2 linked regions of the Homo sapiens genome follow. The protein of the gene in region 1 interacts with the protein of each later gene in a pairwise test. Each region holds a gene or a part of one and is shown in the gene's direction. Other genes may lie near its edges.

Evidence for each region.
Region 2: the proteins of TTYH2 (region 1) and COPB1 interact in binary tests that used the Homo sapiens proteins (3 or more experiments, as listed by UniProt).

Annotation. Positions count from the first base shown.
Region 1 is NC_000017.11:74,230,496-74,237,767, forward strand, and holds part of TTYH2 (protein tweety homolog 2), read left to right. Parts: intron 1-392; coding exon 393-504; intron 505-6,798; coding exon 6,799-7,019; intron 7,020-7,272. UniProt on the Homo sapiens protein: Calcium-independent, swelling-dependent volume-regulated anion channel (VRAC-swell) which plays a pivotal role in the process of regulatory volume decrease (RVD) in the brain through the efflux of anions like chloride and organic osmolytes like glutamate.
Region 2 is NC_000011.10:14,468,623-14,475,894, reverse strand, and holds part of COPB1 (coatomer subunit beta), read left to right. Parts: coding exon 1-110; intron 111-1,279; coding exon 1,280-1,400; intron 1,401-6,331; coding exon 6,332-6,559; intron 6,560-7,034; coding exon 7,035-7,214; intron 7,215-7,272. UniProt on the Homo sapiens protein: The coatomer is a cytosolic protein complex that binds to dilysine motifs and reversibly associates with Golgi non-clathrin-coated vesicles, which further mediate biosynthetic protein transport from the ER, via the Golgi up to the trans Golgi network.

The DNA of each region.
Region 1 (7,272 bases):
GGCTCATCAGTTGTAATGGATGTACCACTCTGGTGCAGGGTTTTAGGGTGGAGTAAGAGGCTGTGCGTGTGTGGGGCAGCAGATATATGGGAACTCTCTACTGTCCACTTAATTTTGCTGTGAACCTAAAACTGCTCTAAAAACAAGCTTTTTTTTTTTTTTGGAGACAGAGTCTAGCTCTGTCACCCAGGAGGGAGTGCAGTGCCATGATCTTGGCTCACTGCAACCTCCACCTCCTGGGTTCAAGCAATTCTATGCCTCAACTCAACCTCCTGAGTAGCTGGGATTACAGGCATGAGCCACCGCACCCAACCCTAAGCTTATTTTTTAATATAAGCAAACATTCTCCTCTGTGTATCACCTCTAACCTCTGTTTGGGATCTTGCTTATAGTGCTGCGGTGGGCGTTGGTTTCTATGGAAACAGCGAGACCAACGATGGGGCGTACCAGCTGATGTACTCCTTGGACGATGCCAACCACACCTTCTCTGGGATCGATGCTCTGGTAAGGCTCCCGGGCAGCTGGCCGGGTACAGGCACAGCCCACAAGGTCAGCGTGGTCAGAGCAAGGGCCCCCGTCAGATCCCAGCTAGCTCAGCTGCACACGGAGGGGCTGTGTGACGCCTGAGGGCTGGACCCCCGCCTGCGCTGCAGTTGCCTCTGCTGGGGCAAATGGGCAATTGTGCGTTCCAAGCCTGCAGGGGTGGCAGGGATGGGGGTGAGGACTAAAGGAGGCAGCTGTGGGATCAAACCCCATTTTCCAACAAGCCGAACACTTTCTGATTTGTCAAAGGAGACCTTGAACATGGAAAATCAGCCCCACTGCATTTTTTGTTTTCATTTTAAGTGCTGCATATGGAGTATTGCAAGGTCCAGGAGATGCCAAGAGGAAAAAACTCTCTTCAGAGACAACTGAGGGCTGGGCGTGGTGGCTCACTCCTGTCTTCCCAGCACTTTGAGGGAGGCCAAGGCATGTGGAGCTCAGGAGTTTGAGACCAGCCTGGGCAACATGGCAAAACCCTGTCTGTACCAAAAATACAAAAATTAGCCAGTTGTGGTGTGGTTCCAGCTACTTGGGAGGCTGAGGCAGGGAGATCACTTGAGCCTGGGAAGCGGAGGTTGCAGTGAGCCAAGATCACGCCACCACACTCCAGCCTGGGCAACAGAATGAGACTCCATCTCAAAAATTAAAGAAAAAAAAAAAATTGAAGAGCCCCGTGATGTAAGGTAGTGGAGACCTGCCCCAGCTCCTCGGAGCTCTGGCTTCCAGGCAGTGACTCCAGGTGGGGGCTCACAGTGAAGGATGCTCTGGCCTGGCCAGAGGAGGTGTCAGACTCTTAGGGGAAGGGGAAGGCTACTCTGCCAAGCCAGGGCTGGATTTTGTGGCAGACGCTGCCTGATACACACGAGCCTTTTGCTGGGGCTGCCACCCCTCTGCTGGGGACCTGGCCCAGGGAGGAGCACGACAAGGGTGGACATCTGAGGACTTGGTTCCCTGAAAACTGCCTCTGCCTTTTCTACCCCAGCTGCCTGGAATTGGAGTTTTCCCACAGTTTGACCTTGGCCCCCACACACGTCATTCTCACTCTAAGCACCAGACCTTTTCAGCTGCTTATCCGAGCAGCCTCTGCCACAAAATCCAGCCCCAACAGGAGAATTTGGCCATTGCCCCGGCATCCTCCAGAAGAGGATTGGACCCCATTTGCCCCCCTCCTGCTCCCTTAAGCTCCTCTAAGGCTTTAATCCCTCAGTCAACAAGGGGGGTCGGGGGTGTCACCTTAAAGAGACAGCTGTGCTGCTCCTCCGTGCCCAAGTCAATTGTGGGAGGAGGCCCTGGCCTCCAGAAAGGGGCTGAGGGTGGCTACAAAACCAGGGGCCCTGGTCCTTTGCAGAGTTCATTCCACCGCCCGTGTCCACTGGGACCCATCCCCTTAGCTGAGCGCTGAGTCCCAGTGCGGAGATGCTAGTCTGGAACAGCCTTGCGCGGTGAGCTGGGGCGGCTGGGTTGGAGGAGCTGAGGGACAGCCAGCTCAGGCCTGGGAGGCAGAGGTGTGGCCTGCCTGGGGAGAACTCTCCCTCTGGGCACCCACCCTTGCCCCAGGCCCTGGTGGGGAAGGGCCCCATGGTCACTGCCCTCTAGGCTCTCTCTGCCCCTCCCTGCCATCCTGCTGCCTGCCTCCTCTTCACCCACCAGCACCAGGATCACTGGAGGAGGAACCTAGCCCCGAGAGGAAAATCCCCTGCCCTGCCCAGGAAGGCACCAGGGCCATGACCTTCACGGGTTTAGAGAAACTCCCAGAACTCCCTTATGGGAAAACATCAAGTCCTAGAAGTCCCTATCCCACAGGACGAGAGCTGCCAGGGAGGGGAGCTGGAACGGGCCCCCAGGCTGGGGCCTCCCACCCCATGGCCTGATGGTGCTCCAGGGCCAGGTTTGGACATTTCACAGCAGGTTCCACTCTCTGAAATCCCTGCTCCAGGGCCAGGTTTGGACATTTCACAGCAGGCCCCACTCTCTGAAATCCCCTGTGTTCCCAAAGAGAAGGGTTCTGTATCCCTGGAGATCAGCCCCTCGTCCTCTCCGTTGTTACCGAGAAGTGAGGTCAGGAGTCCCAGGGCTTCACACTGGTCCAGCCAGCCCATAGCTGCCTCCAGCCTGTGGGTGGTCACCTCCCCCTCTGGCGTGAACCCCTAGGGCCCAGGTGTAGCTGCTGCCTTGCCTCCAGGTGGAAAGGTGGCACTGGGTCCTTACTAGGACCTGTGAGGCTGGTTTGGGCCTCAGAGTGGACACCCAGCACACCAGTCCTCAGGGCTCCAGGGGAGGCAGCAGATCTTAGAAGACTTCCCAGATCCAAGGGGAGAAGTCCGGATATCAGATAAATGACTAGTGAGATAATGTCAGTGAAAGTGCTGGTAGACTGTAAAGTACACTCAGCTGTATGACTGTGATTATGAGTGCTATTAATTACTGTAATCACCTTGGGGTCAGCGGGAGGCTGGGATCCAGGACGCTGTGGGCGGCAGAGGCAGATGGGGGACTCGTCGACAGGTCAGGCAGGACCTGGATCTGGGCCTTGCCAGAGGCCAGATCATGCAGCTGAGTGGCCAACAAGAAGCCCTCTAGGGATGCACCCACAGAGTGGGGTGGGCCCTGCTCCAAGTCCTCCTTTCCTGGACTGGAAGCCCCATACCTATGCACGTCCAACTAGAGGGACACCTGTGCCTTGGTGGGTAGGGGCGGTGGTTCAGGGATCAGGCGGTCCTGGGAGGGCTGCACGCCCCAGTCTAGGGGAGTAGAGAGGAGTCGTTTTGGGATACCAAAACTTCCTGTACCTGGTAGCCAGCACGGCCCCTCCAGGCTCTCTCATGTGAGTCTGCAGCAGGCTGATGGGCAGCCCTCAGATGTAGAAACTGAGGCACAGGGAGGTTGCATTGCTGACCCGAGGTTGAAAATGTGTATGTTTCAGAGCAGAAACCAGAACCCAGGCCTCCTGGTCTTAGCCCCTTACCTCCACTGACCTGGCCCATCCACACTTCCAGATAAGCTCACTGAGCGCTGGAGAGTCCTCCCTCCCAGAAGTTTTCATACTTGAGCTTGCATCAGAATCACCTGGAAGGGTTGGTAAACACTGATTGCAGGGCCCTGCCCCCAGAGGTTCCGCTTCAGCGGTCCTGGGGCAGGGCTGAGAGCTTTTGCTTTTGTGAGTGAGTTCCCAGGGGGTGCATCTTACGCCCCTAGTCCCGGGACCACACTTGAGAACTGCTCTTTCCTCTAGACCGTGGTCTCCGCCACCTGTAGCTCGTCCCTAAGTCTGCCCAGCCTGGAAAACTGACCTGTCCCTCCTGTTCTCAGAGCTTTCCGTGAGAGAGAGCCTGATTCCATCTCTGGGTCATCCCACCTGTCCCTGCGGGGAGTATTATGTCCTGAAACTTTAAGGAATTGGGGATGGTATAGAGAAGTGGGGAGTTGTAAGTAGGTCACTGCTGTCATTCTTATTTTTTAAAATTTTAGGATCTTTTGAGCCTAGGAGTTCAAGAACAGCCTGGGCAGCATAGCGAGACCCCATCTCAAAAAAACAATTTTTTAGTTTTGTTTCCTGTGGGAAAATATCAGGAAGAAAGAGAAGGCATGACAAATACAAATACTGCCTTCTTTTTTTTTCCCCCTAAGGAGGAGTTTAAGAAATAGAGAAGTTAACTGTGAGAGAGTAGAACTGTGAGGGAGAAAACAAGTGGCCTCACAGAAAAAGTTTACAGATAATTTTTTAACAGCCCTTTACTCTGAAGTTTGTTTGATTTATAGAAATATAGAAATATAGAAATGTCACCTATTACTGGGTTTGTTCAGAATGGCACTATTCTTTGATGATAGTGCCATTTGTATAAATGTTTCCAAAGTGGTTGTACATTTATCTTATTAAATTGAACAGCCAAGTGTACTAGCATGACATTTAGTTACTGAATGTACTTTTACATGGTTTGGGGTCTTTTCCCCTGTGCTTCGGGCTGTCGAATCTGCACATGGTAGAGTGTCTCCGTACTCTGGTATCTCTTAGTCCTTAACCAACTCGTAAGAACCAAGCATAAGCCAGAAAACGGAACAAGCCGCTGACACTGAAAAAATAAAACAAAATGAAACAAAGAGAGCCATTCTCTTTTCTGGAACTAGGAACTCCCAGCGTAGCGCAGATGTAAAAGGCCACACAGCTGATGTGAAGTCCCCATAACACAGAGAACACCGTTGGCCTCCGAGAGTGGAATCTAATCGGCCTTGCTGATCTCACTGTGGGAAGTTTCTGCCTCTTCTTCTGTGTCGTTTTTATCTCCCAGACCCGTGGGAGCTGAAGGCTGCCGAGTGTGGATTAGTGCACACTGCCCCACTCCCGGCCCGTTGTGCTTCTTGGTTTAGTGTGACAGTTTCAGAACAACAAAGCCCTTTCTCCGCTCGCTGCCAGCAAGGGCGTGCTTGGGGCTGCCAAGCTGCACCCCGGGGTTCTGCAGGCACCCTGGGTCTGGGCTGTGGGAAAGTCCCGCTAACCAGTACGAGCCCTGCCTGTGCTCTTCAAAAGCCAGCTAGGGTTGACCACTTGGACCATTAGAAATGGATGCACATGGCCGGGCGTGGTGGCTCATGCTTGCAATCCCAGCATTTTGGGAGGCCGAGGTGGGTGGATCACTTGAGGCCAGGAGCTCGAGAGACCAGCCTGGCCAACATGGTGAAACTGTCTCCACTAAAAATACAAAAATTAGCCGGGCATGGTGGTGCACACCTGTAGTCCTAGCTACTTGGGAGGGAGGCTGAGGCAGGAGAATCACTTGAACCCGGGAGGCGGAGGTTGCAGTGAGCCAAGATTGCACCACTGCACTCCAGCCTGGGTGACACAGAGCGAGACTCCATCTCAAAAAAAAAAAAAAAACAAAAAAGAGAAAGAAAGAAATGGATGAACGGGCTACTCTGGCACACTGCCTAGAGGGTAGCCCTGCTCTGCAAGGAGCAGTACCTTTAAATATAAATAAATAAATAATGTTTTTAACTGGATGGCCAGCCGTCAACTTTCTATTTCTGTCTTGCATTGGCAGATGTTTCCTTCAGGGTCCACTCAACCCCAGGCCCTTAGGGCTCAGCCAAGGGACAGGAGCCTGTCTGCCCACCCAGCAGGACACACATCCAGGGGAGGATGTGAATACAAGGAGAAGGCGCCGGTTTCCTCCTCCTGCCTCATGTCCAGGCTCCTCAGAGACAGGATCGCAGCTGTTTTTGTTTTTGCAAAGTCCCATTGTCCTGCCTTCACTCAGCGTTCAGGACCCGGTGTGCTGCGGCTAGTGCCACAACAAAGCTTTTCTCTTATAGAACAATTAGAAATCCTATTGTGGGGATACAAGGTCAAGGTAGCAACATAGAGTCTGTTTCTCTAAAAGAGAATTTGTAAGCCAAAGTGCTGAAAGTTTTAAGAGAATCTTCAAAGAATAATGGATTATTTTGTTGGTTTCTCCATCTGGGTGTCTCTGTATATAGTAAGGTATAGTAATGAATGCATACGTTTATTCCAGCCCTTTACAGCAGGGGCCACGTGGTGGGCACACAGGATAGCCTCCTTAGTAGAGAGCAACAGAGGCTCCAGAGGGCAGGGATGTGCCCACACTCCCAGCGCCAGAGGCTAGACCTGGCCTCAGCCTGCAACACATAATGGTGTGCTCCTTTGGCGCCAGCATTCTCTCTCTCGGAGCCCAGATCCTGTTTAAGGCCAGGTCAGGGACTGCCCCCTGGTTTGAGGGACATGAGGACTGGGTGGGTAGTGGCGGCCTCTGTCTTCAGTCCTTCCTCCAGGGGCACAGGCTCGAGATCTTCAGGCCTGGGGCAGCATGGTGTGTTCATTCATGCCTAAGCAGGCCAGGCCAGCTTTTTTTTTTTTTTTTTCGACACAGAGTATCACTCTTGTCGCCCAGGCTGGAGTGCAATGGTGCGATCTTGACTCATTGCAGACTCCGCCTCCCGGGTCCAAGTGATTGTCCTGCCTCAACCTCCCAAGTAGCTAGGACTATAGGTACATGCCACCACACCTGGCTAATTTTTATATATTTTTTTGTAGAGACAGGGTCTCACTGTGTTGCCCAGGCTGGTCTCAAACTCCTGGGTTCAAGCAATCCGCCTGCCTCAGCCTCCCGAAGTGCTGGGATGACAGGCATGAGCGTAATTATCGCACCTGGCCAGGCCACCTTCTGCTGCCTGCAAAGACCTCTTCCGGGATGAGAATCAGAAGCTCTACCTCCATGGCTTTTGCCCCCTGCTCCTCCCTAGGTTTCCGGAACTACCCAGAAGATGAAGGTGGACCTAGAGCAGCACCTGGCCCGGCTCAGTGAGATCTTTGCTGCCCGGGGCGATTACCTGCAGACCCTGAAGTTCATACAGCAGATGGCGGGCAGCGTTGTTGTTCAGCTCTCAGGACTGCCCGTGTGGAGGGAGGTCACCATGGAGCTGACCAAGCTATCCGACCAGACTGGCTACGTGGAGTACTACAGGTGAAGGACCGGTGGGAGGCAGAGGGAGGGGCAGCAGCGGCTACATCAGCTTTGTTTATCCAAACCTGCATGTTGAGCTCCAGGTGGAGAAGGGCCACTGGAAAGTATTTTTTTTTTGTTTTGTTTTTTTAAGACAGAGTCTTGCTCTGTTGCCCAGGCTGGAGTGAAGTGGCACGATCTCAGCTCACTACAATCTCTACCTCCGGGGTTCAAGAGATTCTCTTGCCTCAGCCTCCCTCCCAAGTAGCTGGGA
Region 2 (7,272 bases), on another chromosome or scaffold:
GAAGAAGAAATAACTGTAGGGCCAGTTCAGAAATTGGTTACTGAAATGGGTACCTATGCAACTCAGAGTGCCCTTAGCAGTTCTAGACCCACCAAGAAAGAGGAAGACAGGTAATTTATGGCACATATACCCTGCCAGCTGTACTACTTTTATTATTACTCTTGTATGTAAGACAGTCAAATGATTTCTTTCCTCTTGCTTTTGCAACCAAAATGAAAATCTTTGCCATTTAAGGTACTTGAGAAGCGGAGGATGTTTAAGTTCTTCCCCCTAGGAATTGTATTGATGGTTTTAATTCTCTGTCCCTTCCAGTGTTTTTATGGAAATAACTGTTCTGTTTAAACTCAAATTATTTTTACTCAGAAAATGCTAAGTGGGGGTAACTGAAGATATTTGAGTTTTGTTGTTTATTAGCATCTGAAAACATTTTGAAGATTTTTCAATTTCTAAATGATGGAATAAAATTGTGCATTTTTCTATTAAGTAAATTTTAATGGTGAAGATGGTGAAATCTTTGCCTAAAATTTTACTGAATACCCACTAAGTGCTAGGCATTGTGCTAAGTAGTTTGTCTCATATAGTCTTGACAATAAGCCTTTGAGATAGAATATATTATCTCCATTTTATGGAAGAAGAATTTGAGGCTTACCCAGTAAATAAACAGGTAAGCTGGAATTCGGAGGTACTTCATTAGCTGCAATTACGTATGCCCCTAATTAAATATTGTATCTTTCCATATTCTGATGGCTTTTGTGTCATTCAAAGATAAGTTTTCTTTTTTTTTTTTTTTTTTTTTTTTTTGACACAGAGTCTTGCTCTGTCGGCCACGCTAGAGTGCAGTGGCGCGATCATGGCTCACTGCAACCTGTCTCCTGGGCTCAAGCAGTTCTCCTGCCTCAATCTCCTGAGTAGCTGGGATTACAGGTTTGTGCCACCATGCCCAGCTAATTTTTGTATTTTTAGTAGAGACGGGGTTTCACCATGTTGGCCAGGCTGTCCTCGAACTCCTGACCTCAGGTAATCCGCCCGCCTTGGCCTCCCAAAGTGCTGGGATTACAGGTGTGAGCCACTGCACCTGGCCAAAGATAAGTTTTAAAGTCATGTATTATTTTTCTTTTTCCTTCTTTCTTCTGGGAGCTAAGGAGTTAGTTAGCTAAGGTATCCTTATCACTGAAGGATGGTAATAAGAGTGTTTAATAGGCCTATATCATTCATTTATACAGAAGCTGCATGCTGCTTAGCAAGTTGGTGGGTTTGATTTTCCTTGGTTGCTTTGCAGACCTCCCTTGAGAGGATTCCTTCTGGATGGAGATTTCTTTGTTGCTGCCTCCCTTGCCACAACTCTGACCAAGATTGCATTGCGCTATGTAGCTTTGGTTCAGGAGAAGAAAAAGCAAAATGTAAGTTCATTTATTTTACATTTAACCAACAATTAAACATTGAGTGCCTACTATATGCATTGAACAGTGAGGGACTCAAAAATTAATGCTAAGTTTCTGTCATGAAAGAGTTTATGATTTAATAGCAGAAGTGGACACAGTAATATATTACTCTAAAATTGATAAAGTATCTTCCTCTTCTGTTTGGGCTTTAAAAAAATGAAAATTGACAAAGTAATACAATAACAATGTCATGTGATTATTCCAGTGGAAGAGAAAGGATTTATGAAGTCACCTCAGTTTGCTGGGATTAGTTCAGGACCAGTGAAGGAAATGTCCTTCTCTCCAGCATCTGCATCCATTCGGTCATTGTCTGTTTTATCCCAGAATGTCTCTTAAGTTATTCTCATCTGTAGTTCATGCCTGCTTTGTAGCTTCTGACCGTTCTAACCAAACACCCATTTACAATGGTATGCAGTTGGTCCTCCATATTCACAGCTTCTGCACCTGCAGATTCAACCAACTATGGATTGAAAATATCTTTTTTAAAAAATGATAAACAGTAAAAAATAATAGAAAGTTGAAAACAATGCAGTGTAACAATTATTTACATAGCATTTACAGGCATACTTCATTTTATTGTACTTTGCACATATTGCTTTTTTTTTTTTTTTTAAACAAATGAAGGTTTGTGGGAACCCTGAGTTGAGCAAGTCTGTTAGCATCATTTTTCCAAATAAGCATATGCTCACTTCATATCTCTGTGTTACATTTTGGTAATTCTCACAATATTTCAAACTTTTTCATTATTATTACATCTGTTATGGTGATCTGTTATCAGTGATCTTTAATGTTACTATCATAGTTGTTTTGGGATGCCAGGAACCATTCCCATATAAAATAGTAAACGTAATCAATAATTGTTGTGTGTGTTCCGGCTGTTACCCCGTCTCTTTCCTCCTTGGGCCTCCCTATTCTATTCCCTGAGATACCACAATATTGAAATTAGGCCGGTTAATAATCCTACAGTGGCTTCTAAGTGAAGGGAAGAGTCACATGTCTTTCACTTTAAATCAAAAGTGAGAAATAATTAAACTTAGTAAGGAATGCATGTCAAAAGCTGAGCTAAGCCAAAAGCTAGGCTGCTTTTGCCAAGTAGGTAGCCAAGTTATGCATGCAAAGGAAATGCTCTTAAAGGAAATTAAAAGTGCTACTCCAGTAAACACATGAATGATAAGAAAGTGAAACATTTGGCAGGCGTGGTGACTCACACCAGCACTTTGGGAGGCCCGAGACAGGCGGATCACGAGGTCAGGAGTTCGAGACCAGCCTGGCCAACATGGTGAAACCCTGTCTCTACTAAAAATACAAAAATTAGCCAGGTGTGGTGGCAGGCGCCTGTACTCCCAGCTACTTGGGAGGCTGAGGCAGGAGAATTGTTTGAACATGGGAGGCAGAGGTTGCAGTGAGCTGACATCACACCACTGCACTCCAGCCTGGGAGACAGAACAAGACTCCGTCTCGAGGAAAAAAAAGAAGAAGAAAGAAAGCGAAATAGCTTTATTGCTGATAGAAAGTTTGAGTGGTCTGGATAGAAGATAAAACCAGCCACAAGATTCCCTTAAGCCAAAAGCCTAATCCAGACTAAGACCTTAACTCTCTTCAATTCCATGAAGGCTGAGAGAGGTTAGGAAGCTTCAGAAGAAGAGTTTGAAGCTAGCAGAGGTTGATTCATGAGGTTTAAGGAAATAAGCCCGTCTTCATAATGTAAAAGTTTGACATGAAGTAGCAAGTCCTAATGGAGAAGCTGTGGCAAGTTATCTGGAAGATCTAGCCAAGATCATTGGTGAAGGTGACCACACTAAACAACAGATTTTCAGTGTAGACTAAACAACCTTATATTGGAAGAAGATGCCATCTAGGACTTTGGTAGCTAGAGAGAAGTCGGTGCCTGGCTTCAAAGCTTCAAAGGATAGGCTGACTCTTTTGGTAAGGGCTAATACAACCAGTAACTTAAGTTGAAGCCATTGCTCATTTCCCATTTTGAAAATCCTAGGGCTCTTAAGAATTGTGCTTAATCAACTCTGTCTGTGCTCTGTCAGTGGAACAACAAAGCCTGGATGTCAGCACATCCTCTTTACGGGATGGCTTACTAAGTATTTTAAGCTCACCATTGAGACCTACTGCTCAGAAATAAAAGACTCCTTTTAAAATATTACTGTTCATTGACAATTTAGCTGGTCACCCAAGAGCTCTGATGGAGATGTAGAAAGAAATGAATGTTTTCATGCCTGCTAAGACAACATCCATTATGCTGCCACTGATCAAGTAGTTTCAACTCTTATTATTTAAGAAACAGAATCCATAGAACATTTGTGGTAGTAGCGCAGAGTTGGTTACAATGTCCTACCACAGCAATTTCTGACATTCAAATTGGGCCTGTAGCAATGGGACTCCTTTTGATTCCTTCAGCTTTCGTATTATGTTGGTTATCTATACAGCAGGTTTCTAAATTGAAACACTTTCACTCACATCACTCATATTTCCTTCGTTTTTGGAGACTAACAGCTTGATCTAAAAAAAAATTTTTTTTTAGACGGAGTCTCACTCTTCTTGCCCAGGCCGGAGTGCCATGGCATGATCTCAGCTCACTGCAACCTCCGCCTCCTGGGTTTAAGCAATTCTCCTGGCTCAGCCTCCCGAGTAGCTGGGGCTACAGGCGCCTGCCACCACGCCTGTCTAATTTTTTTTGTATTTTTAGTAGAGACTGGGGTTTCACCATGTTGACCAGGCTGGTCTCGAACTGCTGACCTCAGGTGATCCGCCCACCTCGGCCTCCCAAAGTGCTGGGATTACAGGCATGAGCCACCGTGCCTGGCCAGGTTCTTTTTGTTTTTGTTTTAATTCCATTATAAGAAAAGCCATAAATGAGAGCCAGATAATTTACAAGGTATATTATCCCTTAATTGATTTGATTTTTGAGCAATAATTTATTTTGTAACTCTTTTGTGGGCATTTATTTATTCAGGTCTGGTCACAGTATAATCTTTAAAGTATGTTTTTTAAAAGTCTCCAACATTTTTTTATCTCAGAGTTGAATTTGCTTTCCTCTCCTGGTTGCATCACTTCTGGAAGTTGGGAGTGTTTACTGATACCTGCTTAAAAGAGCCAGTTTCTTGTAACATACCGAGTTAATAATGTTTGCACTGTTTGGTACAAGAAGGAAGTTTGGTTGCTTATAATCTCACTGGCACTCCTTCATTTATGCCATTTCCAACACTCTTCATTTCTTTGTGTAGGACTAAGTTTCTGGTATCATACATCTTTTGCCTAAAGAATTTGCTTTAACTTTTCTTATAGTGCAGATTTGTTGGCAACAGATTGTTCCAGTTTTTGTCTGGAAAAAGCCTATTTTTTTGTACACTTTAGAAAGTTACCTTTGTGGGTATAGGATTCTAAGTCTTCTGTTTTTTTTTCCCAGTAGTGTAAAAGTAAAGCTCCATTGTCTTCTGGCTTTTTGGTGAGAAGTCTACTGTCATTCTTATCTCCCTGGGTGTAGAGAGAGAGAGAGTGTGTGTGTGTGTGTGTGTGTGTGTGTGTGTGTGTGTGTGTGTGTATTTCTTCCACTGGTTTTAGATTTTCTCCTTTTCACTTGGTTTCAGTAATTTGATTAGGATATGCCTTAGTGTGGTTTTCTTCATGTTTGCTGTACTTGTGGTTCATTGAGCTTGTTGGGTTTGCAGGTTTATATCTCCATCAGTTTGGGAAATTTTCAGTCATTTCCTCGGATTTTTTTTTCTGTCCCCTCCTCTCTTTCCTCTCCTTTTGGAGACAGTATCCAAACTTGGGGGACATATACTTACTCTTCTGCTGGTTTTTCCCAGGCCTCCAGTAGTTTTTCATGCATGTGTGCAGATCAGTACTCAGCCAAAGGCAATTTGGCAAGGGCTTAGAGCATATGTGTCAGGATAATGCTACATGAGACTAAAAAAGTAAGTTGCAATCACTTGTGGAAGACTTTGAATAGCGAGCTAAGTAATACGGACTTCAGTATGAAGGCTGACATTCATTAAAGGTATTTACATAGGGAATGAAATGATTGGTGCAGTATAAAGATTAAGATAGCAGCATCAGGTGATCACGCTTAGCAGCACAATAATTGGACAGCCTAACTTTAGGTACCTTGTGATGCAGTACAGGGTGAAATACAAAACATCACCTATCTGGTATTCTAATCAAAAGTGTGGGATATTCTATAAAACAACTGGCCTCAGTTCTTTAAAAAAGTTAGTGCGATTAAAAACAAAACGGCAGAGAACTGGTCTAGATTAAGAGGGATAAAATGCATGAAGCTGATCCTGGATTTAAAAAATAAAACAAAAACATTTTAAGACAATTTAGGGAGATTTATTTGAATTCAGAGTATAGAAGCTGTATTTTGGAATTGTTGAATTTTTCAGATGAGAAAATGAAATTGTGGTTTGTAGGAAACTGTTCTGACTCTTAGGAGATGAATGCTGAAGCATTTATGAGGTGAAGACTTTTTCACATGTCAGCCAAAAAAAATAAGTGTACATATACAGAATAGGTAAGCAAATGTGGCAAAATGTTAACAATTGGTAAAGTATATCATTCTTTTAACTTTTCTGTAGTTGGGATTAAAAAGGACAGCATCAGCATATGAAGTGGTTACAGAGAAGGACTGGAGCAAGGGAAAACAGTTAAAAAGCCTCTGCTGTCTCTAATTGAGGATTAATGCAGGTCTTAGAGAGTGGCAGTTAAGAGTAGAAAGGAAGGAGAAGAATGCAAAAACAGATATGGACATAAAATCCAAAGAATTTGAAATCTTATTCAGGTGAAGTGAAAATTTAGATTGTGAGTTATAATGAAGTGACATGATTGCAATCTGAGAATCAAGACAATATCAGTAACCGATTTCTTTACTTTCTTAGTCTTTTGTTGCTGAGGCTATGTTGCTCATGGCTACTATCCTGCATTTGGGAAAATCCTCTCTTCCTAAGAAGCCAATTACTGATGATGATGTGGATCGAATTTCCCTGTGCCTCAAGGTCTTGTCTGAATGTTCACCTTTAATGAATGACATTTTCAATAAGGAATGCAGACAGTCCCTTTCTCACATGTTATCTGCTAAACTAGAAGAAGAGAAATTATCCCAAAAGGTAAGGTATATATGATGAGGCAACAAAAGTGTTTTGTGTCTCTTCGTGCAGTGGCTCACGCCTGTAATCCCAGCACTTTGGGAGGCTGAGGCAGGAGGACTCCTTGGGGCCAGGTGTTTGAGACCAGTGTGGGCTACATAGCAAGCCCCTGTCTCAACAAAAAAAATGAGAAAATTAGCCAGGCATGGTGGTATGTGCCTGTCATTCCAGCTACTTGGAAGGCTGAGGATGAAGGATCGTTTGAATCTAAGAGTTCGAGGCTGCAGTGAGCTGTGATCATACCACTGCACTCCGCCTGGGCAACAGAGTAACAGCCTGTCTCAGGAAGAAAAAAAAGAAAAGAAAAGTGCTTTGTGGGTTTTCTTGTTGTTTTGTTGATTTTTCAGTTTTCATATGTGAGGGCTGTCTCTGTCAAAAGCCTCTAAAAAACTATCTTTTCATATTAAAGAGAGACTTTGTTATATTCTCAACACAGAAAGAATCTGAAAAGAGGAATGTGACAGTACAGCCTGATGACCCCATTTCCTTCATGCAACTAACTGCTAAGAATGAAATGAACTGCAAGGAAGATCAGTTTCAGCTGAGTTTACTGGCAGCAATGGGTAACACACAGAGGAAAGAGGCAGCAGATCCCCTAGCATCTAAACTTAACAAGGTAACAAAATGTCTGATAGACTCTAAATTATTTAAATCGACTCCTTAAGGAAGTTGTT